2 linked regions of the Homo sapiens genome follow. The protein of the gene in region 2 interacts with the protein of the main gene of each other region in a biochemical or structural test. Each region holds a gene or a part of one and is shown on either strand. Other genes may lie near its edges.

The links.
Region 1: the proteins of LPAR2 (region 2) and PLCB3 form a complex in vitro, tested with the Homo sapiens proteins (one study listed by BioGRID).

The regions. Positions count from the first base shown.
Region 1 is NC_000011.10:64,258,202-64,273,617, reverse strand, and holds the end of PLCB3 (1-phosphatidylinositol 4,5-bisphosphate phosphodiesterase beta-3), read right to left. Parts: intron 15,146-15,416; coding exon 14,905-15,145; intron 14,734-14,904; coding exon 14,649-14,733; intron 14,561-14,648; coding exon 14,374-14,560; intron 13,590-14,373; coding exon 13,384-13,589; intron 12,219-13,383; coding exon 12,122-12,218; intron 12,038-12,121; coding exon 11,953-12,037; intron 11,667-11,952; coding exon 11,542-11,666; intron 11,433-11,541; coding exon of another isoform or gene 11,359-11,432; exon of another isoform or gene 11,252-11,358; intron 11,212-11,251; coding exon 11,057-11,211; intron 10,972-11,056; coding exon 10,810-10,971; intron 10,121-10,809; coding exon 10,021-10,120; intron 9,928-10,020; coding exon 9,823-9,927; intron 9,598-9,822; coding exon 9,506-9,597; intron 8,668-9,505; coding exon 8,514-8,667; intron 8,427-8,513; coding exon 8,391-8,426; intron 8,309-8,390; coding exon 8,116-8,308; intron 7,733-8,115; coding exon 7,579-7,732; intron 7,493-7,578; coding exon 7,416-7,492; intron 7,304-7,415; coding exon 7,214-7,303; intron 7,124-7,213; and 7 more. Other genes in the region: integral membrane protein GPR137, read right to left, coding at 2,957-2,959; BAD (bcl2-associated agonist of cell death), read left to right, coding at 1,815-2,005, 3,281-3,409. UniProt on the Homo sapiens protein: Catalyzes the production of the second messenger molecules diacylglycerol (DAG) and inositol 1,4,5-trisphosphate (IP3).
Region 2 is NC_000019.10:19,620,275-19,636,503, reverse strand, and holds LPAR2 (lysophosphatidic acid receptor 2), read left to right. Parts: upstream 1-8,283; 5' UTR 8,284-8,412; intron 8,413-9,219; 5' UTR 9,220-9,228; coding exon 9,229-9,961; intron 9,962-11,934; coding exon 11,935-12,248; 3' UTR 12,249-12,849; downstream 12,850-16,229. Other genes in the region: GMIP (GEM-interacting protein), read left to right, coding at 783-860, 935-1,089, 1,291-1,479, 1,575-1,712, 1,801-1,997, 2,314-2,701, 5,967-6,033, 6,168-6,541. UniProt on the Homo sapiens protein: Receptor for lysophosphatidic acid (LPA), a mediator of diverse cellular activities. Seems to be coupled to the G(i)/G(o), G(12)/G(13), and G(q) families of heteromeric G proteins. Plays a key role in phospholipase C-beta (PLC-beta) signaling pathway.

The sequences.
Region 1 (15,416 bases), on a different chromosome or scaffold from region 2:
TGAGCCACTGCGCCCAGCCCCCCACCTGCTTCTCACTCTGTCATTGCACTCTGAGTGTTTGCTCAGGGGAGTGGTTCTAAGTCTTTATCGGTCTGGGTAGAGGAGTGGAGTTGGCAGGAGTTGGGAGATGGCACAGAGCACAGTTCAAATAGACCATAGTAGGCGGGCCTCTGAATAATAACCCATAGTGCACTTGCAGCCTACAAAGCACTTTCTTTTTTCTTTTGTTATTATTATTATTATTTGAGACAGAGTCTCGCTCTGCCACCCAGGCTGGAGTGCAGTGGCACAATCTCGGCTCACTGCAACCTCCACCCACTGGGTTAAAGCAGTTCTCCTGCTTCAGCCTCCTGAGTGGCTGGGACTACAGGCGTGAACCACCACACCTAACTAATTTTTGTATTTTTAGTAGAGACGGAGTTTCACCAGAGTTTGAGGCCAGGCTGGTCTCGAACTTCTGACCTCAGGTGATCCACCTGCCTTGGCCTCCCAAAGTGCTGGGATTACTGGCGTGAGCCACCACGTCTGGCCTTCTTTTATTAATTTTTTAAATTAATAGAGATGGGGTTTTGCAATGTTGCCTAGGCTGGTCTCGAACTCCTGAACTCAAGCAATCCACCTGCCTCAGCCTCCCAAAGTGCTGGGATTACAGGCGTGAGGAATCACGCCCAGCCACAAAGCACTTTCACATTTTTTAATTTTATGTGATGTTCACACAGCCACTGGGAGTCAGGGCTAGGATTATCCCCTCATAAAGGTGAGGACACAGGCTAAGAGAGTCGAAGGCTGGCTAGACAAGGGGAGAGACACAGAGCTCCGCTGATCATCACTGGACTCTGGATTCCACCAAACCTTTGGAACCTTCCAGCCTCAGGCCTCCACAGCTTCACAGAAACTGGGCAAGTCTTAACTCTCTAAGCTTCTGTCTTCTCACCTAAGCATGTTTGGTACTCACCTCCCAGGGTGGTTAGGAGGATAATAAGGGAATGTCTCGGCCTACACGTAAGTGCACCATCAATGGTACCTAAAAACGTCAACAGTTCCAGACACTGTCTCCAGAGAAGGCTCTGTGGGGGATGCGGACATGTAGCGGCCAAGTTCTTGTTCTCCAGGGGCTCTGCAGGTCCCTTGCAGAGGAGGCATTCAATCCTGCCGGCTGTGGCAGGACACTTTCCTATCCAAGGGATTGGCTTCCTCCGATGTAGAACAGACACTATGAAATAGCTACCAACCCAGGGGTTGCCAGGAGGCCCCATGAAGGTCTTGCACTAATAATACTTCTTGCTTTTTTTTTTTTTCTTTTGAGAAAAAAAGCCTGTCGCCCAGGCTGGAGTGCAGTGGCGTGATCTCGGCTCACTGCGACCTCTCCCTCCTGGGTTCAAACGATTCTTCTGCCTCAGCCTCCCGAGTAACTGGGACTATAGGCACGTGCCACTATGCCCAGCTAATTTTTGTGTTTTGAGTAGAGACAGGGTTTCACCATGTTGGCCAGGATGGTCTCGATCTCCTGACCTTGTGATGTAACTAGTATTTCTTATGCCCTTATTTTGTGCTAGGCACAGGGCCTCACCCATTATTGGCACTCGGTAAGGATTCGTGGGATTAATGAGAAGTTAACCTAAATCTTCACCAAAGGCCCCTGAGCTTCCCCTCGATTCACATACAAGGGACTGGGGCTCTGAGAGGTGGGCTGTGATGCGCCCCTGGAAGACCCACGAGTGGGCCTGCAGAGCTGATGGGGAGGGTTCAGGCAGGGCCAGGGGCTTAGAGGAGCTGAGATTAACGTCGCCCCCCTACCCACTGACCCTCTGCAGGCGCTGGGGCTGTGGAGATCCGGAGTCGCCACAGCTCCTACCCCGCGGGGACGGAGGACGACGAAGGGATGGGGGAGGAGCCCAGCCCCTTTCGGGGCCGCTCGCGCTCGGCGCCCCCCAACCTCTGGGCAGCACAGCGCTATGGCCGCGAGCTCCGGAGGATGAGTGACGAGTTTGTGGACTCCTTTAAGGTGAGCGCCAGTCCCCAGCGTGCCAGGACCTGAAGTACCAGGCCGCCCCCCGCCGGTCTGTCCCTGCCTTGTCCCAAGGCACGCCCGGATCTGGAGTCCCACGACCCCTCCCCAAAGCCGTCCTGTTCCTTCCTAGCTCCAGAGCATTCTGGGATTTGTAGTCACAAGACTTCCCCGCCCCCACTCCCCAGCTCTTCCCCCGCCTGGTGTGTGTGTGTGTGTGTGTGTGTGAGTCACAGGGCATGCTGGGATCTGTAGTCTAGATCCCACTCCAGGCGTGTGTGTGTGTGTGTGTGTGTGTGTGTGTGTGTGTGTGAGAGTCACAGGGCATGCTGGGATCTGTAGTCTAGATCCCACTCCAGGCGTGTGTGTGTGTGTGTGTGTGTGTGTGTGTGTGTGTGTGTGAGTCACAGGGCATGCTGGGATCTGTAGTCTAGATCCCACTCCAGGTGTGTGTGTGTGTGTGTGTGTGTGTGAGAGAGTCACAGGGCATGCTGGGATCTGTAGTCTAGATCCCACTCCAGGTGTGTGTGTGTGTGTGTGTGTGTGTGTCAGTCACAGGGCATGCTGGGATCTGTAGTCTAGATCCCACTCCAGGCGTGTGTGTGTGTGTGTGTGTGTGTGTGTGTGTGTGTGTCACAGGGCATGCTGGGATCTGTAGTCTAGATCCCACTCCAGGCGTGTGTGTGTGTGTGTGTGTGTGTGTGTGTGTCTCACAGGGCATGCTGGGATCTGTAGTCTAGATCCCACTCCAGGCCAAAGCTCCTGGGTTCCCCGAATTCTTGGAAGACCAGGCATGCTGGTATTTGTGCTCCTTGCTGGCACCTGTGCGCTCTGTCGCCCAGGCTGGAGTGCAGTGGTGCGATCACGGCTCACTGCAGCCTGGAACTCCTGGCCTCAAAGGATCCTCCCGCTTCAACCTCCCAAAGTGCTGGGATTACAGGCGCTCACCATCGCTCCCGGCCCTTTGATTCTCGAATTGCGGTCTCATCTTCTGGGTGCTAGGTCTCCAGCTCTGGCCTTTCCATTTAGGGCCCTAGGCATCCTCTCTTCCCGTCTCCGGCACGGAGTTCCTGGGATCTAACCAGTTCCCATTCCTGGGGGCCCATGCGTCCTCGCGAGCGTCCCTGACCGCCCGGCGTGGAGCCTCCTGGGAGTTGTGGCCTTCATTATCTCCCCCCCGATCTCACTTAGAGGAAGGCTCACGGAAGTGGAGAGCCTGGCTCGAGCTGCCATGGTAATCTAACTCATGTAACCCTTTTCTCCCTCCACCAGAAGGGACTTCCTCGCCCGAAGAGCGCGGGCACAGCAACGCAGATGCGGCAAAGCTCCAGCTGGACGCGAGTCTTCCAGTCCTGGTGGGATCGGAACTTGGGCAGGGGAAGCTCCGCCCCCTCCCAGTGACCTTCGCTCCACATCCCGAAACTCCACCCGTTCCCACTGCCCTGGGCAGCCATCTTGAATATGGGCGGAAGTACTTCCCTCAGGCCTATGCAAAAAGAGGATCCGTGCTGTCTCCTTTGGAGGGAGGGCTGACCCAGATTCCCTTCCGGTGCGTGTGAAGCCACGGAAGGCTTGGTCCCATCGGAAGTTTTGGGTTTTCCGCCCACAGCCGCCGGAAGTGGCTCCGTGGCCCCGCCCTCAGGCTCCGGGCTTTCCCCCAGGCGCCTGCGCTAAGTCGCGAGCCAGGTTTAACCGTTGCGTCACCGGGACCCGAGCCCCCGCGATGCCCTGGGGGCCGTGCTCACTACCAAATGTTAATAAAGCCCGCGTCTGTGCCGCCGAGGCTTTTCTGTGCGTCGACTGGGGCTCCGGCAGGCCGGGGTAGTGCTCTCACGGATACTTTCAAAAGAGGCCGCTGTCTTACGAGGGAAACTTAGGCTCTGCCTGACATCCAGCGACAGAGACGGAAGGGGTCGCGGCGGCTCGCGGGCCTGGGCTGCGCGGCCCAGGTCCAAGTCCCCAGCACGCGCATTGGGACCGCAGCGCTGCCGGCAGCCCGATCCCGCGCTCTGCAAACCGTGCCGCGGCCCCCCAGAGAGGGTCACTCGCTCCTATTTGGGTCAGCCCTTTCCAGCAGCTACTGTGTGGCCGGCCCGGGGCCAGCGCCGCCCGGGTACCTCGCGGGGCGGGAGGGAGCGGCTGAGCCAGGCTGGCAGCAGCGCGGTCGCTGGAAACTGAGGCTTCATGCGGGGACCCGGACAGAGCGGGGGCTCCGTTCCAGAAAGATTTATTGGCGCCCCCTATAACCCGGGCCGGTTCTTGGTGCCGGGCACAGAGATGCATTGCGCCACGGCCCTGCTCGCGGAAGCTCCCGAGGGCCCGGAATCGGCAGGGCAGTCAGAGAGGGCTTCAGGGAGGAGGCAGCTAGAGCTGCGACCGGAAGGTGAGGTGAGGGTCATCCCCCCCGGCGCAAGGAGGAGTGGACCCATGGAAGGACAGGGGAGCAGCAGAGGCCAGGCTTCTAGGGGCTGGAATGTCACACCCAGAAGTTAGACATTCAGCTGGTATTTGAGGACCTGGGAACTGACTTGGAGTGTGTCCCTCAGTGGACACCAGCTAGAGTCAGGAAGGTGGGAGTTGGCTGCTGAGGAGCCTAGATACGGAATACACTGGAGTGAGCAGAACTGGGGGATAGGGCAGCGTCCCACAGAAGAAGTGAGGAAGTCTGGGGCCATTGCATTGACCCTGAGGGAGGAGGGCCCTACTCCGGAGCCTGTTTCCCTGGCCTCCCCACCCCATCTGTTTGCCTGAGGCTGCAGCAAAAACAAAGCAAAGAAGATACTCAATTGGCAGGAGATAAGCCCAGATAAGAGGCCGCCTTCCCCTGGAGGAGGGATGCAGGCGGGCAGCCTGGGAAGAGCCAGGAAGCTGGGAGAGGCCTTGAAGAGGTGCCAAGCCGACCCTGCTGCGAGCCCAGCCCCGCCCTGGAGCCCGCACTGTGGGCTCTCTGCCACTTTTCGCTGGTCTTGAGGCATGGGACAGGTCCAGGCTGGCTGAAGACAGTCCACCACGGAGGGTCCAGGCCTGCCCTGCCTCCAGGTCAGGACGTCTTGACTTAGCTGTGGCCTAGCACACGACAGATGGCTCCGGGCCTCAGTCTCCTCATCTGTAAAACAGGCATAACATCTCCCTCACAGGGATGAGGGGATGCTGGGTGGCCCAGCCCCTGCGTGTCTGTGACTGTCCACTTCCCTTCCCCCAGAGTCACAGGCAGGCCTACTGCCCACCTATTTCTGAAGACCCAGGTCCCCCGGTGTTGGGCAGGTTCTGAGCTGCCCTGCTCCACCCTGGCCGATCCATCACCTGATAGAGTCAACTGCCTGTCGGGGGCCCAGAGCAGCCCCAGCGGAAGATACTAGGCGTTTGGGTCATATCAGGCCACAGGAAGCGGGGCAGGGAAGGCTTCCTGAAGCAGAGGCCTGAGCCTCAGAAAAGAGAGAACAGGGAGAGCCTCGGAGAGACGAAAGTCATGGGGATGGGGGAACAGGAACAGCGGCTTGGGGGCAGAGGGCACAAGCAGAAGGCCACGGAAGCTCAGCAGACTCGGCAGGGCAAGCTCAGGTTCAACCCAGCAGCCCTTGGCTGGAGGCGTGACCTCAACCCCACCAAATGCCCAAAGTCCATTTTATAGATGAGGAAACTTAGGGCCCAGAGTCCTGTCACCCCAAATCACACTGCACACAGGGTCCCTGAAATCCACTTTTATTCATGTAAAAAAAATCCCCAAAGAATAGAGAAAAAAATGTGACTCCTACTTCCCGGAGCTCCAAGTCTCCAGCCAGCTCTCCCGGGGAAGGGAGGAGACGCTGCTAGCTCGAGGGTGTGGGTGTCACAGGGAGCAAAGCCCTGACCAAGGCCCTAACCTAAGACTGAGGGCAGGAAGGAGGGGCCCCAGGAGGATGAAGGGAGTTAGCTGAGGTACTTGCCCCGGGTTTAAAAAAATAAAATTTCTAGATAAAAAGTTAAAAAAAAAAAAAAAAAGCATTAGTGTCATTGCCTCCTGCCCTCCACCCAGCGCCCGCCCTGGCCCTGTGGCCACCTCGCTCAGCCAGTTCAGAGCTGCGTGTTCTCCTCCTGGCTCTCCGAGTCAGCGCCCGACAGGTGCCCGCTGCTCCCGGGTGCGTGACCGTTGCTGGCACAGGCCACCAGAGGCCCGTCCCCCAGCCCCTCCGGCATCTCGCCCAGCAGGCTCCGGCGGATCTCCTGGGGGAGCCTCGCCCGCTGCTCCTGACACTCCTGGGCCAGCTGGGCCAGCAGCTGTGGGAGAAGGATGGGCATCACAGGCGAGGCCTGGCTGCCTTGCACCCCGTCTGCCCACCTGTTCGCCCATGGCCTCACCTTGGGCTCCTCTTCTGCCAGCTGTTGCAGGACCTGCTGCTGCCCAGCCACAAGACGGTCATGCCGCTGCTTCTGGGCCTCCTCCAGCTACAGGGGTGGGCAAGGGCTCAGCTGAGGGGCCCTGAGGGAGGGGCTAGAGCCTCGAGGCTCTGGCTGGGTATAGAAGTCAGGTGGGCGAGGCCGGGTGCAGTGGCTCACATCTATAATCCCAGCACTTTGGGAGGCCAAGGCGGGCGGATCACCTGAGGTCAGGAGTTCGAGAACAGCCTGGCCAACATGGTGAAACCCCATCTCTACTAAAAATAAAAAAATTAGCCAGGCATGGTGGCGGATGCCTGTAATCCCAGCTACTCGGGAGGCTGAGGCAAGAGAATTGCTTGAACCCAAGAGGTTGCAGTGAGCCAAGATCGCGCCACTGCACTCCAGCCTGGGCGACAGAGTGAGACTCTGTCTCAAAGAAAAAGAAGTCAGGTGGGCGAAGGCTCCCAGGGCAATGTATCAGGGTTGTGAGAGGACTGGGCCCAAGGACGCCAAAGCCAGGGACACTGGTACAGACAGTTGGCTTTGGGTATGATGTGGGTACCCTGGGGCTGTTGGGCACTTGAGAAAGGCCCTAGAAGAACCTTGAGGGCAACGTGGCACCAGGCCAGGCATGGAGATGGGTGTCTGATGAGTGAAGGAAGGGAGGTGGGGTAGGGTGGCCCGGGAGCCTGACTCACCCGACGGATGGAGTTGACTGACTCAGTGATGTGCCGACGGTTAATCTCCGTCAGTTCCCTGCACGGGAGCAACGCAGGATGGCTCGGGGCCCAGACACCTGCCCTGCCTCCCCAGTACCCAGATGGCCCCCGGTCCCGGTGCCCTTACGCCTCCTTCTTATGCTTGTCCCTCATCTTGGCCTCCGAGATGCTGTTATGGCGCTTTCTGTCCAGGATCTTCTGCAGCTCCTTCTTCTCCCTGGAGAAGCCGGCAGGGGAAGAGGAGGGGTCAGCGGCAGAAGCACAGACTCTGCCCTCCTTCTGGTACTAGAAGTCCCCAGCCCTTCCCATAGACAATCCTCGGCTTTCACCTCTCGTTCATCTCTTTCAGCCTCTTGAACTGAGTTGTGTTTGCATCAAGGACGACCTCCCTGAGCCGCTGCAGAGCCTGTGGACACAGGGAGCTGACAGGTGATGCCGGGCTGACGACGGGTCTATCCAGCAGGCTTTCCCTGGCCACTGCAGGCCCCCTACCTGTCTCAGGTGTTCCAGCCTCCGCTGGGCCTCTGCGTCCACCTGGGCCTCCCGCAGCTCCAGCAGGCTCTGCACCTGTCTGTTCTGGAACTCCTGATACCGCTTTGCCTCGTCCTCCCCCTCCTTCGTGTCCTCCACATCAGCGGCCCCACCTCTGCGAGGAGAACCCCTCTGGGTGATGCCTGGGCCCGTCACATGGACTGGGATGGGGAGGGTGTGTAGGGGGGCACATCCTGGCAAGCGATGGCAGACACCATCCCATGGGGCCAGGTCTGTTATGCAAACCAGGAGGCCTGTTAGCTCCACCCAAGTGATGGGAGCCTGTTTGGGCAACATGCTCCTCATGGACTTCAAAAGAGATGTCACTCCCTGGGGGACACAGGGACGCCTGGTGTGGAAAGCCTCCTCCATCCTTGCACTGAACCCTCCTCCCTGGGGGTCAAGGAGCAGCTCTTGCCATCTCTCCATGCCCACCGACCCCCATGTTCACATCAGCACACCCAGCACACATAGCACACAGGCGGCCCAGACACTCACAGGGCACCTGGCCGCAGCCGGCACCTGCCCTCAGCCTGTGCCTGAGCCAGGCCATCCAGCAGGCGGCGGGTGAGGGTGACTGCCTTCCGCTGATGCTTCTTGCGCAGCTCCCGCAGGTCTCGCTCTTGCCGGCTCCGGAGCTTGACCAGAGCCTTGTGACCTCGGAGCTCATCCAGCGGGGTGGGGGCCACCTCTGGGAGCGGCAGAGCAAAGGTGGGCGGGGGGTGGGGGAACCTGCAAGGCAGCCCCCTGCCTCCAGGTACCCCGCCCCCTACCTGAGAGGATGCTGGCGATGAGATCATCACGCTGCCCTGGGGAGCAGAGGCCCTGTGAGGAGCTGGAGGACAGGGTGGGGGGTGCCTCCCTGCAGCCCACCCCCGACCCAGGCCACTCCTTACCTGGGCTGCTGAGGGAGGTGCTGGCAGGGGAGGTGGTGGGGCCAGGGGGCCGGCGGGGGGAGGCATCCAGTGGGCTGGGGGTGGGGTTTGAGGACGGCTGAGACCCCAGCTGCTGAGACTGGGTGTCCTGGCACGTCTCTTGGCCAGCCTGAGCCTATAGGGAGAAAGGAGAATGCTCTTTTCAGAAATGCTGTTCCCTCCAGACCCTTCTGTCCTCTACCACCTCCTGGGTCCCCTAGCACCCCTGTCAGCCTCCCTTAGTCCAAGCCACTGCTGGACTGCTCTGTAACAGGAGGCTGTCTGCATGAGAAGAGCTATAAATCAAGCCTTTCTAAACCCCTTTTCCACATGGGCTGTGGGGAAGATAACATAATGCCAGCCCACTGCATGTGCTCAGTAACTCCCAGATTGTTCTGGAAAGGCCTGGCCCAGCCCCAAGCCTCCTCTCCTCCCCTGCCTGTGTCCCCCAGCCTTGCCTACAGTCGCTCATTTTCCTTGCTGCTGAGCTCCTGATTAAATCAACAGAGGACTCAACCGCAGAGTGGGCACCAGCCTCTCCGCTAACAGCTCCAGGCAGCCCTAATTGCAGTCATCTCTCCCCGCCCGCCTGCCGCAGGCCCTGGGGGGACTGGATCTGGAAGCGCAGGTGAACCTCCGTGCCTGACCCCTCCCCACGGAAGCCACTGCCCTCCTCATGACTCCCAGGACACCACGTCTGAACAGCTTCTGTGGCTTCGCACTGCCCTGATGAAGTGGCTGAGACCCCTGTACCCCCACTCCAAGCCTACATGGAGCTGGAGGAATTCCAGCCCAGGTGTGACCTGAAGGCCTCCTGAATGCAAATGGGTGGTTTTCATCTCCTCAAAATCCCAGGGCTGCCAAGCCTACTGCGCTAGAGAGACCAGAAGCCCCCTCCTCATGTGGCCACAGCAGTCATGTCCAGCGGCCCCCTGGGTCACAGTGAGCCTGAGCCCTGCCCTGCCCCGGCTCACCTCACTCTCCCCAATGAGGGCGGCCAGCTGCCGGGCCCTCTGGTCCATCAGGCTGACGTGCTTAATGGGGTTGATCAGGGCCTCCGCATAGTCTGGGGGGAGGCAGAAGGCCAAGGTCTCAGAGACAGAGCCCCCAGGCCACCCCCACCCGCCACCTCTGGTCTCAATGAGGAATTCCAGAGCTTGTCCTCAGATCTGTTCCCTACTCAGTTCCCTACTCAGTCGGGGCCATCCAGCTCGGCCACTCCCAGGCCCTGGGGGTGGCCCTTGTCCCTCACACTCCCTGGCCAGGCAGGCCCCGCCCACCCCCAGCTCACCCTGGTGGTCGTCAGGAATGTAGTCCGAGGCTTCGGTGTAGATGAGCAGGGCCGGCAGGCACAGCGGTTGGTTGGCCTCGTTCCGCAGGCAGACGTAGTGGTATCCTGGGTGGTCAGGAAGGCAACGTTGGGTTGCTGGGCCAGGTGGGGGCCCTACCCACTGCCCGCTGTGCTGCCCAGAGCCCACCAAGGCCTCACCGGAGCGGATGGCAGAGACAGGCAGGATCCGGTGCCCTACGAATTTACCCCCCTCCTCAAAGGCTGCAATGCGAAGTGAAGCCAGCGTGGGCAGCACCACCTGTGGGCCAGACTGGAGCTGAGCCACAGGGCTGACCCTGGGCCACTGTGGCTACCAGGCCACAGCTAACCACAGCCATCAAAGCTTAACAAAGCAGACCTTCAGACGAGCTGACCTACTGACCATCAGTCACCATTGCCACTAAGCTGATGGCTGACCCCACTTCCATGTCCTGGCCTAATGGATGACTGCAGCCATCAGGACCCTGAGGCAAGATGACAGGCAGCCAGGCCCCTCCAGGGCCCCCACAGACAGTTCTGGTCATTGCCAGTTTAGAAACGGGAGTGAGTCATGAGCAGGAAACCAAGAACACACATGCCCAGGCTGGGAGCAGAGGCCGCGTCCATGCAGGGCCGTGCGGGGTGCTGAAGAGCGGATATGAGCTTGGGGTTGTGACCTCAGCTCCTGCCTCGGAGACAGGGTAGGCTGTGTCCACTCCTCGCAGGGGACACAAGACGTCTAGCTGACACCCCCCAACCCCCATCTCACCTTCTCACCCTGGTCTCTTACCCTAAGGAGGGCAGGGAGACTGACGCTCGGACAGGCAGGTCCTGGGGGACCCATGGCACCCCCCACTTTCTGATCCCCAGTCGCCAACGGTGTGCCTGGTTCCTGTTCTCCCACCTGAGAGTCGGGGCGGTCTGGGCTGGATCTGCCTGTGCCTGGGCGGGTGCAGGGGCCAGGCTCACCTTGGGGAAGTCGAAGGGCTCTTCGTCCCACACGGGGTTGAACGAGTTCCCCTGAGAGGTCCGGGTGCGGTACTTGCGCCGCGTATCAACAGGGAGGCCAAACATGTCCACCTCCACGTAGATGCCCACCTTCCTGTCGGACAGGAACTGCCCTGAGATCACCTGGGGGTGGGCCAAGGAGGGTGAGGCGGATGCTGAGAGTCCTGCCCCCAGGACACCCCTGGCCTGAGCCGCCCGCAAGCCCCACCTTGACCCGCAAGGCATTGGCCACGATGCCATCCACGATGACCTCAGTGAAGGGGTCGAAGGACTTGTCCGGCCGCCGCATGAACTCCGGCTTGAGCAGGTACCCGCTGCGCCCGTTGTACTCAAAAACGCCCGCGTTGAGCTGCATCGCCACATCTGGGGTGCCACGGGCACGTCGAGCAGGGGCAGGGATCAGGCAGGACGGTGCCATGTGGGGAATGGGAGATCATCAGGTCAGATGGCATCCAAGGTCCAGGGTCAGGGGCGGGCTCAAATGGCATCAGGGTCCGGATCCAGGACAGATCAGACAGGGGAGGGGTCTGGTATCAGCCAAGGGCAGGAGGCGGGGTGAGTCGGGAGCTGGGTTCCCCTGGGATCTGGGATGAGACAGGGTCAGAGGTCCATTCAGGCAAGACCAGCAGGATCGTGGGTCAGAAGTCAGTAAGACTGAGGGTCGGGGTCAAGATGGAGGGGGCCAGGGCTCACCGAGGGTCTGGAAGTTGAGCGCAACAAGCTGGCACCCTACGTTCCAGAAGAGCTGGGGCATGTAGTTGGAGGAGTCCACGCGGGTGCCCTTGGGGTAGATGCGGCTGAGCTGCTGCTTGTTGTATCTGAGATTGGTGGTCAGGGGCCACACAGGTGCCAGGGCCCACCCCATCAGCCTCCACCTCCGGCCTCAGCCAGGTGCTCCTGTGACCCCCACACCCGGCCTCTGTTTCTTAGCCTAGCCATGCCCCCTGAGACTGCCTGGATCTGCCCAAGCCCCAGGCCAGGGTGCAGGAGGGCCGCCGGAGGGCCAGCACCCTGTGCAGGTGGCATATGTGGGGACAGAACACCGGAGCCGGCCTCCGAGCGCCCCACCCTGGCCTGCCCGCCCACAGCACCTTCAAAGGATACTCCACAAACTCCATGGGGCTCTTGGTCAGTTGCTCCATGGCCTTGGTCTCCACAAAGGACGACATCTCGAAGCATTTGTTCCTCTCTTAGGGGTGAGCCAAGAAAGGGCGTCAGACCTGGCAGGGCTGAGCTGGGCAAGCTCCCATGCCTGCCACCCACCCCCACTCACTTCGAGCAGCCTCAAAGGACTTGAACTTGACAGGTTCGATGTAGTTGACAAGCGTGGACATCTCCTCAGTGGCATTCACCTCGCTGCTGGCTGTGCCCTGTGGGCCCCAACCCAGGGTCAGCAGTGCCATTCCCGCCACAGCTGGCCATTCCCTCACCTGCCCCCCATGAAGGAGGTGCTGACCCTCTTCCCAGCACTATATACACACTGCTGGTGGTGCCGACAGTCTTCTCCCCGGGGTCTCACTGATGCGCCCTGGACACCACCCAGCTCAAGCAATTTTCCTGCCTCAGCCTCCCAAGTAGCTGGGATTACAGGCGCCCGCCACCTTGCCCGGCTAATTTATGTATTTTTAGTAGAGATGGGGTTTCACCATGTTGGCCAGGCTGGTCTGGAACCTCCCAACCTCAGGTGACTCGCCCACCTCAGCCTCCCAAAGTGCTGGGATTACAGGCATGAGCCACCTCGCCTGGCCCATATAGGTGTTATAATTATCATTACTTTTACTGAATCATTTGGGAGTAAATTATAGACATCATGACCCTTTACCCATAAATACTTCAGCATATATGGACATTCTCTTCTATAACTCCAATACAATAATTAAATTCAGGAAACAAAACATTAACATATTATCTAATATGTAGTCCATCTTTAAATTTCACTAATTGCTCCAGTAATTGTCTTTATAGCAATGATGTCTTTTTTTTTTTTTTTTTTTTTTGAGATAGTGTCTCCCTTTTTAGCCCACGTTGGAGTGCAATGGTGCAATCTCAGCTCACTGCAACCTCCACCTCCCAGGTTCAAGGGATTCTCATGCCTCAGCCTCCCGAGTAGCTGGGATCACAGGTGTGAGCCACCACGCCCAGCTCAGACTGATTTTTTCTGTACCATTCCTCACAGCTACTCAATGCTCCCCATGACAATGCTCCCCGCTCCTGCACCCCCTGGCCCTGCCCCAGGACCTTTGTACATGCTGTCCCCCTTCCTGAGGTCTCCCTGCCCCACCTCCCTGCCCAGGGTAGACTCCCTATCCTCTGCCAGTTCTGTACCCTAACTCGCACCTCCCAGGCCACATCACCAGCAGAACTGTATGCTTGTTTCCATGCCTGATGACTGAAGAGCCCTCCTCCCACCTTCACTCACACCCACACTGAGCCCCAGGAGGCAGGGGTGATGTCAGTCTTGTTGATGGTCAGACCCAGCCCCCTGGGAGGTAAATAGATGCTACCTCCCCGACCTGCCCACCCTGTGGGCCTGACCTCATCTGTAGTTGGCTTTTTGGGGTCTGTCTGTTCCTCCTCTTCCTCATCTTCCTCCTCATCCTCACGGTCAGCAGGTCCAAGAACATAGGGGCCTCGGTTCAGGCCCTCGTCACCCAGAGACTTCTGAGGCTCCAGGCTGGGCTTCTCAAGCCCTACCTCCTCCCCATTGCTCAGGCCTGGGCAGCTGTCAGAGCTGGGAGACCCTGCAGAGGACAGGGCCACAGGGTGAGGGGTCAGGACCACACAGCTGCTTAGGAAGTCTGGAGGGGTTTTTCCCAGTGTGTGCCGAGGTGACTCAGTGGGGAATTCAAGGGGTACTCTCAGGGCAGTGTGGCTTGGGGAGAGGCCAAGAGGTCGAGGTCAGATGGTATTAACCCAGTATGGGTTGAGAGGGGTCATAGGTCAAAGGTAAAGGTCTGCAGTGATATTCAGCAGGGAGGCAGATAGGGTGGTTCAGTGGGGTGAGAAGTCAGGAAGTAGCATACCACAGCCCTAATAGCGGGGTAAGGGATGACATAGAGAGGTTACAGGTCAGGGGTAAGTCAGAGCCATGTCTAAGGAGGGGGCATAGTGAGGTGAACAGTCAGGGGTGAGAGGTCAGAGGTCAGCTGAAATGATAACCAACTGGGCAGGTGAACTCAATGCGGGCTTAGGGGTCTGAGGTCACACCCAGTGTGGGATGTGGTTTACTGAGGTCAGAGGTCAGCCTTCAGAGCCATCACCGGGTTGTGGGAAGGCTCTGAGAGGTGAGAGGCTGAGGTTGGGAGTCAGGAGTTGGGGTGCAGCTGGGTGAGACGTGCACCTGAGGTCAGGGGTCAGAGGCCCCACACCAGCCGACAGGTGGTGAGGAGACAGGCCGGTTGTGGGAACAGGCGCACAGCGAGGCAGGAGGGTGGGCTGGGGGTCTGGGATGAAGTGTCACGGCGCCTGGAGCATGAGGCCAGAGGCTAGGGTCAAGTCAGGGTGGCGGGCCGGGCTGGGGCCTACCCAGCTGCGGGGAGGAGGGCTCGGTGGCCGCGGAGCTCTCGCTCAGGGCAGAATTGCTCTGCTCCAGGGGCCGCTTGCGCCCGGCGCTGTCTGGGCCACCTGCGCTGGGTCGGTGCCGCTTCTTGTTCTTCACCAGGATACGGCCCATCAGGTCCTGGGGGCTGGGCAGGGGAACGCCTGGGGCCAGCTGGGCAGGCATGGACGAGTCAGGGCCCTGGACCGGGTCCGCAGCACCCTGGCCCCCATGCCACCCCCCTCGCTCCGAGCTCCCGTACCGGGTACTTGTCCAGAGGCTCGATGAGTAGCGCGTCTCCAAAGATGGAGCGGCAGTACTCAGCCATCTTTGCCTGTTGCTTTGCCCTGCGGAACCGAGGTCAGAGGTCAGAGATCCCTCCCCCAGAGAGGAAGCTGAGGTCTACGGGACATGTCAGTGGCCGTTCGCAGGGTTGGAGGTCCCTGAGCAGTCCAACAGCACTGAAGCTGGAAGACTGTCCCCCGGTCCATGGGGTTTCATGCCAGGGGCTCACTCACGAGTCCACATGGTTCTCGAAGGAGAGGATGACGGGGTAGGGCGAGGTCTTGAAGGCAGTCTCGGCAATGGCCTCCAGCACGTCGCGCAGAGGCACCTCTGTGGTCATGGTGAAGCCGTGGGTAATGAAGGGTTCCTCCTCAGGCGGCCGTCCCTTCCACACGTCCAGCTCCACGCAGCGGCAGCCCCATAGTAGTGCCTGGCGGTACATCTCCACCGACGAGGTCCCAGCCAGCTGCCCCGCTGGGGCGGCGAGGCTCTGTCACCGAGGCCGCCCACCAGCCCAGCTCCTCACCACCCCGGCCCCACCTGGAACCAGGACATGCTGGATTTGCAGAGGGCTCTCCATCTCTCAGATGGATACCCACCACCTGTCCATCCCACCAGCGTGAGCTGGGGGGAGTCATCCCTGAGACTCACTATAGCTCCCCACTGCCTCAACAATCCCTCCCTCTCCTCACTCCCTCCACCCACCTCAGCCCTGGCACAGCTCACACCACCTCCTGTGTGGAAG
Region 2 (16,229 bases):
TCGCCCAGCCTGGAGTGCAGTGGCGTGATCTCGGCTCACTGCAACCTCCACCTCCCAGATTCAAGCGATTCTCCTGTCTCAGCCTCTGGAGTAGCTGGGATTACAGGTGTGCACTACCACGCCGGCTGATTTTTGTATTTTTTAGTAGAGACGGGGTTTCACCATGTTGGCCAGGCTGATCTCGAACTCCTGACCTCAGGTGATCCACCTGCCTCGGTCTCCCAAAGTGCAGGGATTACAGGTGTGTGCCACCACGCCCGGCCTTTTCTTTTCTTTTCTTTCTTTCTTTTTTTTTTTTTTGAGACAGAGTCTTGCTCTGTTGCCCAGGCTGGAGCGCAGTGGTACGATCTTGGCTCACTGCAACCTCCGCCTCCCAGGTTCAAGCGATTCTCGTGCCTCAGCCTCCCGAGTAGCTGGGACTACAGGTGCCTGCCACCATGCCTGGTTAATGTTTGTATTTTTAGTAGAGACAAGGTTTTGCCATGTTGGCCAGGCTGGTGTCAAACTCCTTGCCTCATGTGATCCTCCTGCCTCAGCTTCCCAAAGTGCTGGGATTACAGGTGTGAGCCACTGCGCCCGGCCTATTTCCTCAACCTCTTGATCCAGCTTATGAACCACCCCCCTCAGGTTGCTGACCCAATTCTCCAACCCTTAACCACTGACCTGTCCAATCCCCCTCCTGACCTCTGACCCCTTGGGAATTAGTGGGTGGTTCTGGAAGCCCTAAAAACCAGGAGTGCCTCCCATAGCCCAGGAATCTCCCATGATTCCTCTGACCCCAGGCGCTGGCACGAGGCAGCTGGTGAAGGCTTCGTCCACAGGCACTGAGTCCTCAGATGACTTTGAGGAGCGAGACCCTGGTGAGGCTGAAGCAGGGTAGGTCAGGATGGGACAGGGCAGGGCACCAGGCACTCCTGACCCTGTCTCCCTGCAGACCTGGGAGACGGGCTGGAGAATGGGCTGGGCAGCCCCTTCGGGAAGTGGACACTGTCCAGCGCGGCTCAGACCCACCAGCTGCGGCGACTGCGGGGCCCAGCCAAGTGCCGCGAGTGCGAAGCCTTCATGGTCAGCGGGACGGAGTGTGAGGAGGTGTGGCCTGGGTTAATGACCAAATGACCTTTGCTGACCCTTGATCATCTCCCTGACCTGAGATTCCTACAGCCTTTCTGCCCCTGGGACCCACCCTAACCTGATGTCTCCCATGAGCCCCCATTCCTTGAGGATCCTTGTAACCTTCTCTTCCCCTACTGGTCCCTAATGACCTCCCTGTCCCTGTGACCTTCCCCACAGTGCTTTCTGACCTGCCACAAGCGCTGCCTGGAGACTCTCCTGATCCTCTGTGGACACAGGCGGCTCCCAGCCCGGACACCCCTTTTTGGGGTTGACTTCCTGCAGCTACCCAGGGACTTCCCGGAGGAGGTACCCTTTGTGGTCACGAAGTGCACGGCTGAGATAGAACACCGTGCCCTGGATGTGCAGGTGCTGCCCTGACCCTTCATCATCCCCAGAAGTGACCTGACCGAATCGATGGCCTATCACGAACCAGGTGTCTGTTTTTCACCCTCACCCTGCAGGGCATTTACCGGGTCAGCGGGTCCCGGGTCCGTGTGGAGCGGCTGTGCCAGGCTTTCGAGAATGGCCGAGCGTTGGTGGAGCTGTCGGGGAACTCGCCTCATGACGTCTCGAGTGTCCTCAAGCGATTTCTTCAGGAGGTTGGTGCTCAGGACACTGAGGGGGACGCGGGCAGGAGCCCTCCACAGCCCACCCACACTCGTGTTGCGCCCTCCGTTCCACCCCCAGCTCACCGAGCCCGTGATCCCCTTCCACCTCTACGACGCCTTCATCTCTCTGGCTAAGACCTTGCATGCAGACCCTGGGGACGACCCTGGGACCCCCAGCCCCAGCCCTGAGGTTATCCGCTCGCTGAAGACCCTCTTGGTACAGCTGCCTGACTCTAACTACAACACCCTGCGGCACCTGGTGGCCCATCTGTTCAGGTGTGCATGGGTCCCTGAGCCTTGAAACGCGACCCTTTTCCCTGGACATGCGACTACTAACTTCCCTGGCTGACCCCTGACACTGACCTCTGACCTTTGACCTGTGTTTTCTGAACTCTGAACCTTAATCCATGATTCATAACTTTGGGTACTGACCCCTGACCTCCAGTTCTGGATATGTGGCTGCTGGTCTCAGACGACTTACACCTGTGACATGGGCAAGTCACCTCTAGGCTGGCCTGCGTGTCCCACCCTTACCCTCAGACCAATGAGCTTGCATCCTGTACCCTGACCTTTCTCTTCACACCATCCCCAGGGTGGCTGCACGATTTATGGAAAACAAGATGTCTGCCAACAACCTGGGCATTGTGTTTGGGCCGACACTGCTGCGGCCGCCGGACGGCCCGCGGGCAGCCAGCGCCATCCCTGTCACCTGCCTGCTGGACTCTGGGCATCAGGCCCAGCTTGTGGAGTTCCTCATCGTGCACTACGAGCAGATCTTTGGGATGGATGAGCTCCCCCAGGCCACTGAGCCCCCGCCCCAAGACTCCAGCCCAGCCCCTGGGCCCCTCACAACCAGCTCCCAACCGCCACCCCCGCACCTTGACCCAGACTCCCAGCCCCCAGTCCTAGCCTCAGACCCCGGCCCAGACCCCCAGCACCACAGTACCCTGGAGCAGCATCCCACGGCCACACCTACCGAGGTAAGAACCCACTGGGCCCACAGCTATGGAGAGGGCCTTATCTCTGTTCAATTCTCTTACCTTCTCTTTCACCTTCCTTCCTTTTTAAAATTTCCTTCATTCTCTTCCTCCCTTCCTCATTTAACTTATGTTCATTCTGGAAGGAATAGTGAGGAATGAGCAGTGGGCAGTGATGATGTAACAAAAGGGGACAGCCCTGCAGAGGTACTAACATGGGTGATCATTCATTCCTCCAACAGAATATTTATTGAACATGTATTTTGGGCCAAGCATTGTCGTAGGCATTGCAGATACATCCAGGAGCTAAATATCCAAAGACCCTGCCCTCTCAGTGCCTGTGTTTTAGTGGGGAAAGAACAACCATATACATGACACAAAGTCAGTTATCTGGAATGTGATGAGGTGATGATGATAAGGGTAATGGATCATGAAAAGGTAGAGTAATGGCTGGGCGCGGTGGCACACGCCTGTAATCCCAGCACTTTGGGATGCTGGGGCAGGCAAATCACCTGAGGTCAGGAGTTCGAGACTAATCCAACCAATAAGGAGAAACCTGTCTCTACTAAAAATACAAAAATTAGCCAGGTGTGGTGGTGTGTACCTGTAATCCCAGCTACTCAGGAGGCTGAGGCAGGAGAATCGCTTGAGCCCAGGAAGCAGAGGTTTTAGTGAGCCGAGAGCATGCCACTGCACTCCAGCCTGGACAATAGAGCAAGACTTTGTTTCAAAAAAAAAAAAAAAAAGTGGAGTAAGACACATGACACCAGGGAGCAGCACGGTGGGAGGTGGAGTTTGTATCACTAAGTAGGATGGTGGGGGCACGTCTTAGAGAGCAGACGGACTTGAGCAAAGACTGGAAGGACATGAAGGAGTGAGCTGGCAACATGGAGATCAGGTGAAGGGTGTTCCAGGCAAAGGGAACAGCCAGTGCAAAGGCCCTGAGGTAGGATCGTGCCTGGTGTGTTAGGACGCAGCCCCATCCTGTAATGAATGACAGGAAGGTGGTATGAAGTGATACCAAAGAGGAGTGGGCCCAGGTGGCTCTGCCAGCTATCCTGACCTTGCATCTGCTATTCACAGGCACAGACCACCACTGAATGTGCACCTGCTGTGCAGGGGACACTATAGAGGCTTCCTGTTGTCCTCTCCACAGTCCTGAGAGGTAGACAGTGTTAATGAAAATCATTTACAGATTAAACAATGAAGGCTCTGAGCAGTTAATGGCCCTAAAAGGGGACTGTAAGCAGTTGGAATCTTTTATTTTTTTTTGGAGACAGAATCTCACTGTGTTGCCCAACTGGAGTGCAGTGGTGCGATCTCGGCTCACCACAACCTCCGCCTCCCGGGTTCAAGCAATTCTAATGCCTCAGAGACAAGGTTTCGCCATGTTAGCCAGGCTGGTCTCCAACCCCCTACCTCAAGTAACCCACCCACCTCAGCCTCCCAAAGTGCTGGGATTATAGGCGTGAGCCACCACACCCGGCCGCAGTTGGAATCCTTTATTTTTTTAGACGGAGTTTCATTCTTGTTGCCCAGGTTGGAGTGCGATGGCGTGATCTCTGTTCACCGTAACCTCCACCTCCTGGATTCAAGCGATTCTCCTGCCTCAGCCTCCAGAGTAGTTGGGATTACAGGCATGCACCACCACACCCAGCTAATTTTTTTTGTATTTTTAGTAGAGTAGGGGTTTCTCCATGTTGGTCAGGCTGGTCTCAAACTCCTGACCTCAGGCGATCCGCCCTCCTCAGCCTCCCAAAGTGCTGGGATTACAGGCATGAGCCACTGCACCCGGCCTAGAATCTTTTTTTTTTTTTTGAGATGGAGTCTCGCTCTGTCACCCAGGCTAGAGTGCAGTGGTGCCATCTTGGCTCACTGCAAGCTCTGCCTCCCAGGTTCACGTCATTCTCCTGCCTCAGCCTCCCAAGTAGCTGGGACTACAGGCACCCGCCACCACACCCGGCTAATTTTTTTGTATTTTTAGTAGAGACGGGGTTTCACCGTGTTAGCCAGGATGGTCTCGATCTCCTGACCTTGTGATCCACCCGCCTCGGCCTCCCAAAGTGCTGGGATTACAGGCTGGAGCCACTGCACCCGGCCGCCTGGCGTAGAATCTTTAACAAAGGTCACCAGTCTGGATCCAGAGCTCAGCTGTGAACCAGGAAGATAGCAGCACCCGCTGCTCCGGATTGCTAGAACAGTCCATGCCCAAGGCCTGTGCTGCTGGTATCTTGCTGCATCTGCCATTCCTGAGAGCAAGGATCTCTCCTGCAGCAGCCCAGAGCTGGGAAGCGGCTGCTGGTGAACTGTGGGTCTCTGAGAGCTGGAATGCCTCATAAAGTGCTCGGGACAGTGTCTGATGTGTAGACACTGCCAACCATTTAGCTAAGGATGGAACAGTAAAGTTGGTAAGGTTGCAGAGAGCAGCCCAGGATAGTAGTTCAGAGGCACCACCTGGTCCTAATGTGGAGAGGGCTGAGCCACTCCCTGGGCTGGCCATTTGCTAAACAAGGATTTTCCCACCCTCATGGAGCCCACGGTCCAGACTCAATGAATGACACTGCTCTATGCTGGAAGGGCAAGCAGTACACTTATTATTATTTTTGAGACGGAGTCTCATTCTGTCACCCAGACTGGAGTGCAGGGGCATGATCTGAGCTCACTGCAATCTCCACCTCCCAGGTCCAAGCGATTCTCCTGCCTCAGCCTCCCTAGTAGCTGGGATTACAGGCATGCACCACCACGCCCGGCTAAATTTTGTATTTCTAGTAGAGACGGAGTTTCACCATGTTGGCCAGGCTGGTCCCGAACTCCTGACCTCAGATAATCCACCAACCTCAGCCTCCCAAAGTGCTGGGATTACAGGCATGCACCACCATGCCTGGCCAAGCAGTACACTTATAAGGGCATCGTCTATCCCCAAACACCAAAACTGCAAAGGATGACAGGTGCACAGTCAGTGGTGGTCCATGCCCTGTGCATAGGAGGAGTTCAATGGTAGTCCACACCCAGTGCAGAGTAGGTGCAAAGTCAGGGGTGGCTGGCAGAGCCACCTGGGCCCACTCCTCTTTGGTCTCACTTCCTACCACCTTTCCCTCATTCATTACAGGGTGGGGCTGCGTCCTAACATACCAGGCATGCTCCTACCTCAGGGCCTTTGCACTGGCTATTCCTTTTGCATGTCCAGGAACAAGCCCTTGGCTCTCCAGGAATCTCAAAGAACTGGGATTTTAGTGTTGGGGTCTCATTCTTGGGTTTCTCCCTGCAGATTCCAACTCCACAGAGTGACCAGAGAGAGGACGTGGCTGAAGACACCAAAGATGGGGGAGGGGAAGGTGAGTATGTTAGAGAGAGGCTCAGGAGTTCTGGGGGTGCCCTGGCCCCAGGGTGGCTTGCTAAAAGATGACTCCTGGGGGGATATACAGAGAACTTGGAGGTGCTCTGCACTGACCACCCACCCCGTACACAGTGTCCAGCCAAGGCCCAGAGGACTCACTCCTGGGGACACAGTCTCGTGGCCACTTCAGCCGCCAGCCAGTGAAGTATCCCCGGGGCGGTGTGAGGCCTGTAACCCACCAGCTGTCCAGTCTGGCCCTGGTGGCTTCCAAGCTGTGCGAGGAGACCCCCATCACATCAGTGCCCAGAGGGAGTTTGCGGGGGCGGGGGCCCAGCCCTGCAGCTGCCTCCCCTGAGGGCAGCCCCCTGCGCCGCACCCCGCTGCCCAAGCATTTTGAGATTACCCAGGAGACAGCCCGGCTACTCTCGAAATTGGACAGCGAGGCTGTGCCCAGGGCCACCTGCTGCCCGGACGTCCAGCCTGAGGAAGCCGAGGACCATCTCTGACCACCCTGGCACCTTAAATAAGGAAGAGGCCCAGATTGTGAAGACGGACCCATATATCCCTACCTCCCACCACCTAGTGGCCAAACACCCCGCCAGGAGTTCAATGCTGGGAGAGGTCCAGAGGGTTCCTATAAGGAAAAACTATTTAATACATGACCTAGGGGAGGCCTAAAACCCTTTTGGGGATAATGTCCCAGAGTCCCCCCACTAGACACAGGTCACTGCCAAGCATCAGGGCCACTCGGGCTCAGAGGTCACTCAGGGTCAATACTCAGGGTCAGTGCAGGTTATGAGATCCTTGGGGTCCACCCTAGTCTCTGACACCTGGGACAGGGGTGCTTTTGCTACTTTGGTTGTGGTCACTCCCCCACACCTGCCTGCCTCCTTCACGGACTCGAAGTGACCTTCCTGGAGGAGGTGGGCAGCTCAGACTCCACATGCTGGTGGTGCCTGAGGTCTGATGGCCTCTAATAAACTGTGTCCTATATGCCCTTGGGTGCATCTCTGCTAGGGGAGAGGCCAGCATGGGTAGCACTCCTTGCCCCCATTTTACAGATTAGGGGAATCAAGGCCTCTTTTTTTTTTTTTTTTTTTTTTTTTTTTGAGACGGAGTTTTGCTCTGTCTCCAGGTTGGAGTGCAGTGGCACGATCTCCGCTCACTGCAACCTCCACCTCCCGGGTTCAAGCGATTCTCCTGCCTCAGCCTCCCGAGTAGCTGGGACTACAGGCGCCTGCCACCATGCCCGGCTAATTTTTTTGTATTTTTAGTAGAGACGGGGTTTCAGCATGTTGGCCAGGATGGTCTCGATCTCCTGATCTCGTGATCGTCCCGCATCGGCCTCCCAAAATGCAGGGATTACAGGCGTGAGCCACTGCGCCCGGCCTCAAGGCCTCCTTCTTGCATCATCAAACACCCTGCAGCACCTACGTAAAGGCAGTTGGAGCTGGGTCGCAGCACCCGGCTGAGTCACGCCAGCCCGGCCCTCCCGGAGCTCTGCGTCCCCGATCCGGTCCTGCATAATCAAATACAGTATAACAAAGTACCGATAACCGGGACAATGGGGCTGTGTGCTCCGGACCGTGGGAGCCCGGGGCCGCCGCAGGGAGGCCGAGGGAGGAAGCCACAGGGCAGGGCAGGGCAGGGCCGGGCTTTGCAGGGGGCAGCGCTGTCCCAGGGTGAGGGGTACGGGGGCGGGATTGCAAAACCCTAGCGTGCGCCCGATGATCAGCTGGGGCCGCAGAGGTGGGCCTCGCACAGGAGGCCGCGGCTCGCTGATACTGCGAGCTGGCAAAGCCGAAGCTGGGCGGGGGTCCGGGCGGTGGGAGCCAAGTCGGATCAGGGAGTGGCTTGTAACTCGGCGGCCGATTGGACACGAAGAAGAGAGCGGGGTGGGGCTGGGAGGGTTGGGGGTCCGGAGCGGGGGCGCGGACCCAAGACCACCTGGAGCTCCGCCCGGGCAGCGCGGGGTCACGGCGGGAATTTTCGGGTCGCCGAGTGACTCAGCCCCGCAGGCTCGAAACTGCGGGCGCATGAGGTGTGCAGGTACCGGGGTGGGGGTCCCGCGCCGGAAATAGGGGCGACTGAGGGGCCGCGAGGCGGGGAGGAAACAGGGGGGCTGCGGTTCCGGGCGACACCGCCCCCGACGCGGCCGTGGAGGCGGGGCTCCCCCAGGTGGCGGGGCGGGGCAGGGCTCCCCCAGGTGGTGGGGGCGGGGCGCCGGGGAGACCCCGCCTCCCGCGCCCTCTCAGCAACCCGCACAGGGCGCACCCGGACGCTCTACCGCTCCCGCCGCAGTCGCCGGGCCATGGGCCTCGAGCCCGCCCCGAACCCCCGCGAGCCCGCCTTGTCTGCGGCGTGACTGGAGGCCCAGGTGAGGCCTGCACGGACGGGAGGCGGGCGGGTGCGGGCCTGGGCCCGGGGGAAGGGCGCGGCACGTGCCTGCGGGGCCAGGACGCCGCCCTCTGATCCCTTAACCCCCTACCCCTTCCCCAGTCTGGAGACGCCTGGAGGCCCGGCCATCCATCCCTTCCCCAACCGCTGTCTTTGTCCCGGAGACCGCCAGTGTCCTCCGTCCCACCCGGAACAGCCTATTGCCCCGCCCGCTTGGGAAGCACTCGCGCCCAAATCCCGCCGACTAACTTCTGGGGCCGCCTCTCTGTCCACTCCGATCACCTCCACGCCTCGGCACCGCCCCCTCGCAGGGTTCTAGCAAGTGACCTCACCCTTGTGTGCACACGCTCCCGGGTCTCTGCTCCCTACACTGACTCCGGCACCAAAGTGATCCTCCCTCATCTCTTCCCGCAGCTCACACCCCTTTGTCTTTCCCTAACCCTCCTCTCCCCACAACCCAAACCGGGTCACACATTGGCGGCAGGTGGGCTGGGATTCGACCATAGATGGGTTTTGTTTCACTTCTGGTTCAAAAACCTATTGACTTGGGTGATGTCTTGCACACAGGTCTTATTAGTAGGTAAGAAACAGCTGCTCCTCCACCTCCACCCCAGCCCCATGGAGCTTGCTTTTTCCAGGCCACCGTAGTCCTCACCACTGCCACTTTGCTTCGAGGTATCTGAATTTGAGACCCTTGTCCTTCCTGCGCTGACCCTCCTCTGCAGCTGCCGCCCCTCCCTGTGTCCTTCCAAGAAGTGCCACATGCACTGATCTCTTGTGTCCCCAGATGGTCATCATGGGCCAGTGCTACTACAACGAGACCATCGGCTTCTTCTATAACAACAGTGGCAAAGAGCTCAGCTCCCACTGGCGGCCCAAGGATGTGGTCGTGGTGGCACTGGGGCTGACCGTCAGCGTGCTGGTGCTGCTGACCAATCTGCTGGTCATAGCAGCCATCGCCTCCAACCGCCGCTTCCACCAGCCCATCTACTACCTGCTCGGCAATCTGGCCGCGGCTGACCTCTTCGCGGGCGTGGCCTACCTCTTCCTCATGTTCCACACTGGTCCCCGCACAGCCCGACTTTCACTTGAGGGCTGGTTCCTGCGGCAGGGCTTGCTGGACACAAGCCTCACTGCGTCGGTGGCCACACTGCTGGCCATCGCCGTGGAGCGGCACCGCAGTGTGATGGCCGTGCAGCTGCACAGCCGCCTGCCCCGTGGCCGCGTGGTCATGCTCATTGTGGGCGTGTGGGTGGCTGCCCTGGGCCTGGGGCTGCTGCCTGCCCACTCCTGGCACTGCCTCTGTGCCCTGGACCGCTGCTCACGCATGGCACCCCTGCTCAGCCGCTCCTATTTGGCCGTCTGGGCTCTGTCGAGCCTGCTTGTCTTCCTGCTCATGGTGGCTGTGTACACCCGCATTTTCTTCTACGTGCGGCGGCGAGTGCAGCGCATGGCAGAGCATGTCAGCTGCCACCCCCGCTACCGAGAGACCACGCTCAGCCTGGTCAAGACTGTTGTCATCATCCTGGGTAAGTGGGGCCCCCAGGGGGCAACAGGGACCCTGCTTCCCCCTATCTCCCACAAGACACTGCGAAGCAATGAACAAAACAAGCTACCTGATAGAGGGTGATGGGGGATGATTTAGGTGGGGAATGTCCTCCAAGGAGGTGATAATGTATGTGAGCAGAGGCCTGAATGCTGAGGATAGGAACAGAGAGCCTTCCAGGCAGAGGAAACGGAAAGTAAAAACCTCAAGGCAGTACGAGGCCAGAGCCTCTAAAGAGGAAAGTGGGCTTGTGAGGAGGAGAGATCAGCAAGGCCTTAAGGGGCACGGACAGGAGTCTTATTTTGAGTTTCATGGGAACCCCTTAAGAGTTTTTAGCAGTGCTAGCCGGGCACAGTGGCTCACGCCTGTAATCCCAGCACTTTGGGAGGCCGAGGCGGGCAGATCAGCTGAGGTTGGGAGTTCACGACCAGCCTGACCAACATGGAGAAACCCCATCTCTACTAAAAATGCAAAATTAGCCAGGTATGGTGGTGTGTGCCTGTAATCCCAGCTACTCGGGAGCCTGAGGCAGGAGAATTGCTTGAACCCAGGAGGCGGAGGTTGTGGTGAGCCGAGATCACACCATTGCACTCCAGCCTGGGCAACAAGAGCGAAACTCCAGAACTCTGTCTCAGAAAAAAAAAAAAAAAAGGAGTTTTTAGCAGTGCTAAGCCTGTTTTAACAAAAAGCCTTTAAATTGTTTTTTAATCTATATGTATTTTTAATTTTTTTTTTTTTTTTTTGAGACAGAGTCTCGCTCTGTCACCCAGGCTGGAGTGCAGTGGCGCAATCTCGGCTCACTGCAACTTCTGCCTCCCAGGTTCAAGTGGTTCTCCTGCCTCAGCCTCCTGAGTAGCTGGGACTACAGGTGCGTGCCACTATGCCTGGCTAATTTTTCTATTTTTAGTAGAGACCAGGTTTCACTATGTTGGCCAGGATGGTCTCGATGTCTTGACCTCGTGATCCACCCGCCTTGGCCTCCCAAAGTGCTGGGATTACAAGCATGAGCCACCACGCCCGGCCCATATTTTTAAATTTCAAAATTTATTTTTGTTTTTAAGATACAGGATCTTACTCTTGCCTAGGCTGGATTACAATGGCTCCATCATAGCTCACTGCAGCCTCAACCTTCCGGGCTCAGGTGATCCTCCCGCCTCAGTTTCCTGAGTAGCTGGGACTACAGGCATGTGCCACCATACCTGGCTAATTTTTTATTTTTTGTAGAAACGAGGTCTCACTATATTGCCTAGGCTGGTCTTAAACTCCTGGCCTCAAGTGATTGTCCTGCCTCAGCCTGTCAAATGCTGCAGTGAGGTGTGATCGTGCCGCTTCAGTGAGGTGTGATCGTGCCACTGCACTCCAGCCTAGGTGACAGAAGGAGACCCTGTCTCAAAAAAAAACACACAGGCCAGGCGCAGTGGCTCATGCCTGTAATCCCAACACTTCGGGAGGCTGAGGCGGGCGGATCACGAGGTCAGGAGATCGAGACCATCCTGGCCAACATGGTGAAACCCCATCTCTACTAAAATACAAAAAAAAAAAAATATAGCCGGGCATGGTGGCACACACCTGTAGTCCCAGCTACTTGGGAGGCTGAGGTGGGGGAATTGCTTGAACCTGGGAGGCAGAGGTTGCAGCAAGCCAAGATTGTACCACTGCACTCTAGCCTGGCGACAGAGCGAGACTCCATCTCACACACACACACACACACACACACACACACACACACACACACAAAATGTCCAGTGCCTTGGCCACTGTGTACCAATTAGCATAGATGTCCCATCTTAGCAGGCCTTCCTGTCACACTGCAGAATCAGGGAAACAAGCAGCTCTTGCACTGCAAACTTCACCACTATTGCTCGAGCTCTGGAGACCACTCCAACCCCAAACTGAGAGCTGTAGGTGCCGGGCCTCTGACAGCTTGCCCTGCTCACTTCCGCCTCTGTCCCACAGGGGCGTTCGTGGTCTGCTGGACACCAGGCCAGGTGGTACTGCTCCTGGATGGTTTAGGCTGTGAGTCCTGCAATGTCCTGGCTGTAGAAAAGTACTTCCTACTGTTGGCCGAGGCCAACTCCCTGGTCAATGCTGCTGTGTACTCTTGCCGAGATGCTGAGATGCGCCGCACCTTCCGCCGCCTTCTCTGCTGCGCGTGCCTCCGCCAGTCCACCCGCGAGTCTGTCCACTATACATCCTCTGCCCAGGGAGGTGCCAGCACTCGCATCATGCTTCCCGAGAACGGCCACCCACTGATGGACTCCACCCTTTAGCTACCTTGAACTTCAGCGGTACGCGGCAAGCAACAAATCCACAGCCCCTGATGACTTGTGGGTGCTCCTGGCTCAACCCAACCAACAGGACTGACTGACTGGCAGGACAAGGTCTGGCATGGCACAGCACCACTGCCAGGCCTCCCCAGGCACACCACTCTGCCCAGGGAATGGGGGCTTTGGGTCATCTCCCACTGCCTGGGGGAGTCAGATGGGGTGCAGGAATCTGGCTCTTCAGCCATCTCAGGTTTAGGGGGTTTGTAACAGACATTATTCTGTTTTCACTGCGTATCCTTGGTAAGCCCTGTGGACTGGTTCCTGCTGTGTGATGCTGAGGGTTTTAAGGTGGGGAGAGATAAGGGCTCTCTCGGGCCATGCTACCCGGTATGACTGGGTAATGAGGACAGACTGTGGACACCCCATCTACCTGAGTCTGATTCTTTAGCAGCAGAGACTGAGGGGTGCAGAGTGTGAGCTGGGAAAGGTTTGTGGCTCCTTGCAGCCTCCAGGGACTGGCCTGTCCCCGATAGAATTGAAGCAGTCCACGGGGAGGGGATGATACAAGGAGTAAACCTTTCTTTACACTCTGAGGTCTCCAAAACATTTGTTGTTATCAATTCAGTGTTTCTGTCCCTGTGTCCCGGAATTGTCTACCTTGGCCCAAGTCCAGAAAGGATCTTTCAACATGGTATCTCCTTGGCCCTGTGCTCGCTCTTCTTCAGTCTGGCTGGCTGTTATTCCATCTCTCTCTTTTTTTTTTTTTTTTTTTTTAGACAGAGTCTCACTTTGTAGCCCAGGCTGGAGAGCAGTAGCACAATCTCAGCTCGCTGCAACTTCTACCTCCCAGGTTCCAGATTCTTGTGCCTCAGGAGAAGCTGGGATTACAGGCGCGTGCCACCACGTCCAGCTAATCTCTGTATTTTTATTTTTATTATTTATTTATTTGTTTGTTTATCTTTGAGAGGGAGTCTCGCTCTGTCACCCAGGCTGGAGTGCAGTGGCTTGATCTCAGGTTACTGCAACTTCTGCCTCCTGGGTTCAAGCGATTCTCCTGCCTCAGCTTCCCGAATAGCTGGGTTATAGGCATCTGCCACTACACTCGGCTAATTTTTGTATTATAGTAGAGATGAGGTTTCACCAATGTTGGCCAGGCTCGTCTCAAACTCCTGACCTTGAATGATCCACCCACCTCAGCTTCCCAAAGTACTGGGATTACAGGTGTGAGCTACCGCGTGCCTGACTAATCTTTATATTTTTAGTAGAGATGGGGTCCCACCATGTTAGTCAGGCTGGTCTCGAACTCTTGACCTCAAGCGATCCACCTACCCACCTTGGCCTCCCAAAGTGCTGGGATTATAGGCATGAGCCACCACGCCTGGCCCCTCTCTCTTACTGGGGTCTTGAATCTGTTTCTCTCTGCTTCTGTTCTTTGTTTCCCCCATCTGTTGCTCTGCCTCCATCTCACTGCCTGTCTCCCTGTCTTTCTCTGCAGCTCAGAGTAGTGTCTGGACCCTATGAGCCCCCTCCCTCCCCACTGCCCTTTTGTTTGAGCCCTGATGGTTCAAGGTCACGTGCCCAGCCGTTTCTATCCCATTCCCCACCACCTGTATTCATACTTCCAGCCACAGGTTGTGGGGTTCAGGTAGTGGGATGCAGGATTTGAGCATGACCATTTCTCAAGCTCTTCTGATGTGCCTGGCATACTGGTAAACACTTTAGGTGCTTTTTTTTTTAAATTTTTTATTTTTTTGTGATGGAGTGTCACTCTGTCCTCCAGGCTGGAGTGTAGTGGTGCAATCTCGGCTCGCTGCAACCTCCGCCCCCGGGTTTCAAGCGATTCTCCTGCCTCAGCCTCCCAAGTAGTTGCGATTACAGGCACCTGCCACCGTGCCCGGCTAATTTTTGTATTTTTGTTAGAGATGGGGTTTCACCATCTTGGCCAGGCTTATCTTGAACTCCCGACCTTGTGATCCACCCGCCTCGGCCTCTCAAAGTGCTGGGATTACAGGCATGAGCCACTGTGCTGGGCTTTTTTTTTTTTTTTTTTTTGAGACGGAGTCTTGCTCTGTTTCCCAGGCTGGACTGCAATGACGTGATCTCAGCTCACTGCAACCTCTGCCTCCCAGGTTCAAGTGATTCTCCTGCATCAGCCTCCCGGGTAGCTGGGATTACAGGGATATGCCACCACACCCAGCTAAATTTTTTATTTTTAGTAGAGATGGGGTTTCACCATGTTGGCCAGGCTGGTCTCGAACTCCTGACCTCAGGTGAGCCGCCCGCCTCAGCCTCTCAAAGTGCTGGGACTATAGGCGTGAGCCGCCATGCCTGGCCTTTTTTTTTTTTTTTTTTTTTTGAGACAGAGTCTCACATGATCTCAGCTCACTGCAACCTCCGCCCCCTCCAGGTTCAAGCGATTCTTCTGCCTCAGCCTCCCAAGTAGCTGGGACTACAGGCATGCACCACCATGTCTGGCTAATTTTTTGTATTTTAATAGAGATGGGATTTCACCATATTGGCCAGGCTGGTCTTGAACTCCTGACCTCATGATCCGCCTGCTTTGGCCTCCCAAAGTGCTGGGATCAGTCTTTCTGATTTTTATGTGAGAACACTGATTCAGACAGGTTGTGATCTGGCCCATGGTAAACACAGCTTGGAGATGGCACATACAGGCCCCGAGGGACCAGAGAGGCCCCTAGGAAAGGGACTTCAGATTCCCACGAAGCCCAGGGTTGGTCCCAAGCTCAGCTGGGCTTTCCCTACCTCACCCCACAGCACCCAACCCATGAGTGCCAGATCCATCATGAGCCCCCTCTGAGATGCTCAGGGAGGCCCCCTCCAAGGCACAGTGTGTGCCAGGATGTCATTCTCTGCTCCCACCTCACCAGTGAGGAGGTGGGGTTATGTCCCTACTTTTGAATCCCATGCTGAATAACAGCTAGAATTTGAACCCAGGTCACTCAGAGATGTGAGCCGCCATGCCCAGCCACCTGTGCCAAATTCTTAAACCACTGAAATATGCATTGTCAAAGAACCCAAAACTCCCAGGTCCTTCTATATTAAATGGCCCTGGCCGAGCACTTTGAGTGCCAAGGCTGCCAACTAATTTCTATGCAGTAGAGACCCCTGATGACCTCCAAATGGCAACAGTGGGACGGGTGAGGTGGCTCATACCTGTAATCCCAGCACTTTGGGCGGCCGAGGCAGGCAGATCACCTGAGGTCAGAAGTTTGAAACTAGCCTGGCCAACATGGTGAAACCTCATTTCTACTAAAAATGCAAAAATTAGCCGGGCGTGGTGGTGGGTGCCTGTAAGCTACTCAGGAGGAGGCTAAGGCAGGAGAAGTGCTTGAACCCAGGAGGTGGAGGTTGCAGTGAGCCAAGGTCACGCCACTACACTCCAGCCTGGGCAACAGAGTAAGATTTCTGTCTAAAAAAAAAAAAAAAAAAAAAAGGCAACTCTGTCTCAGGCGCTCTGAGCTGGCTGTTCACATCAGCTCCTCCAGGTTTTAACCTGCACCCCGTGGGTCTCCTTCGAGACCATTTCCTCTTGTCGATCTCCCGTCTCCACCAAGTGGCTTCAAATTTTTGTCTCTGCTGGTCCCTGAAGCTTTCAGTGCCCACCCCTCCAAGTTCTCTGAAGGATACTACTTTGTTGGGGTTGGGGGCAGGTTTTGCTCTCTCACCCAGGCTGGAGTGCAGTGGCACAAACACAGCTCACTGTAGCCTCGACCTCCTGAGCCCAACTTATCCTCCCGCCTCAGCCTCCCAAGTAGCTGGGACCATGACCAGCTAATTTAGCTATTTTTTTAATTTTTATTTTTGTAGAGATGGGGTCTCACTATGTTCCCCAGACTGGTCTTGAACTCCTGGGCTCAAGTAATCTCCCACCTCAGACTCCCAAAGTGTTGGGATCATAGGTGTCAGCCACTGCACCCAGCCTGAAGGCCACTACTGTTCAGGCCTCCTGGGCAGTGCTGTGCT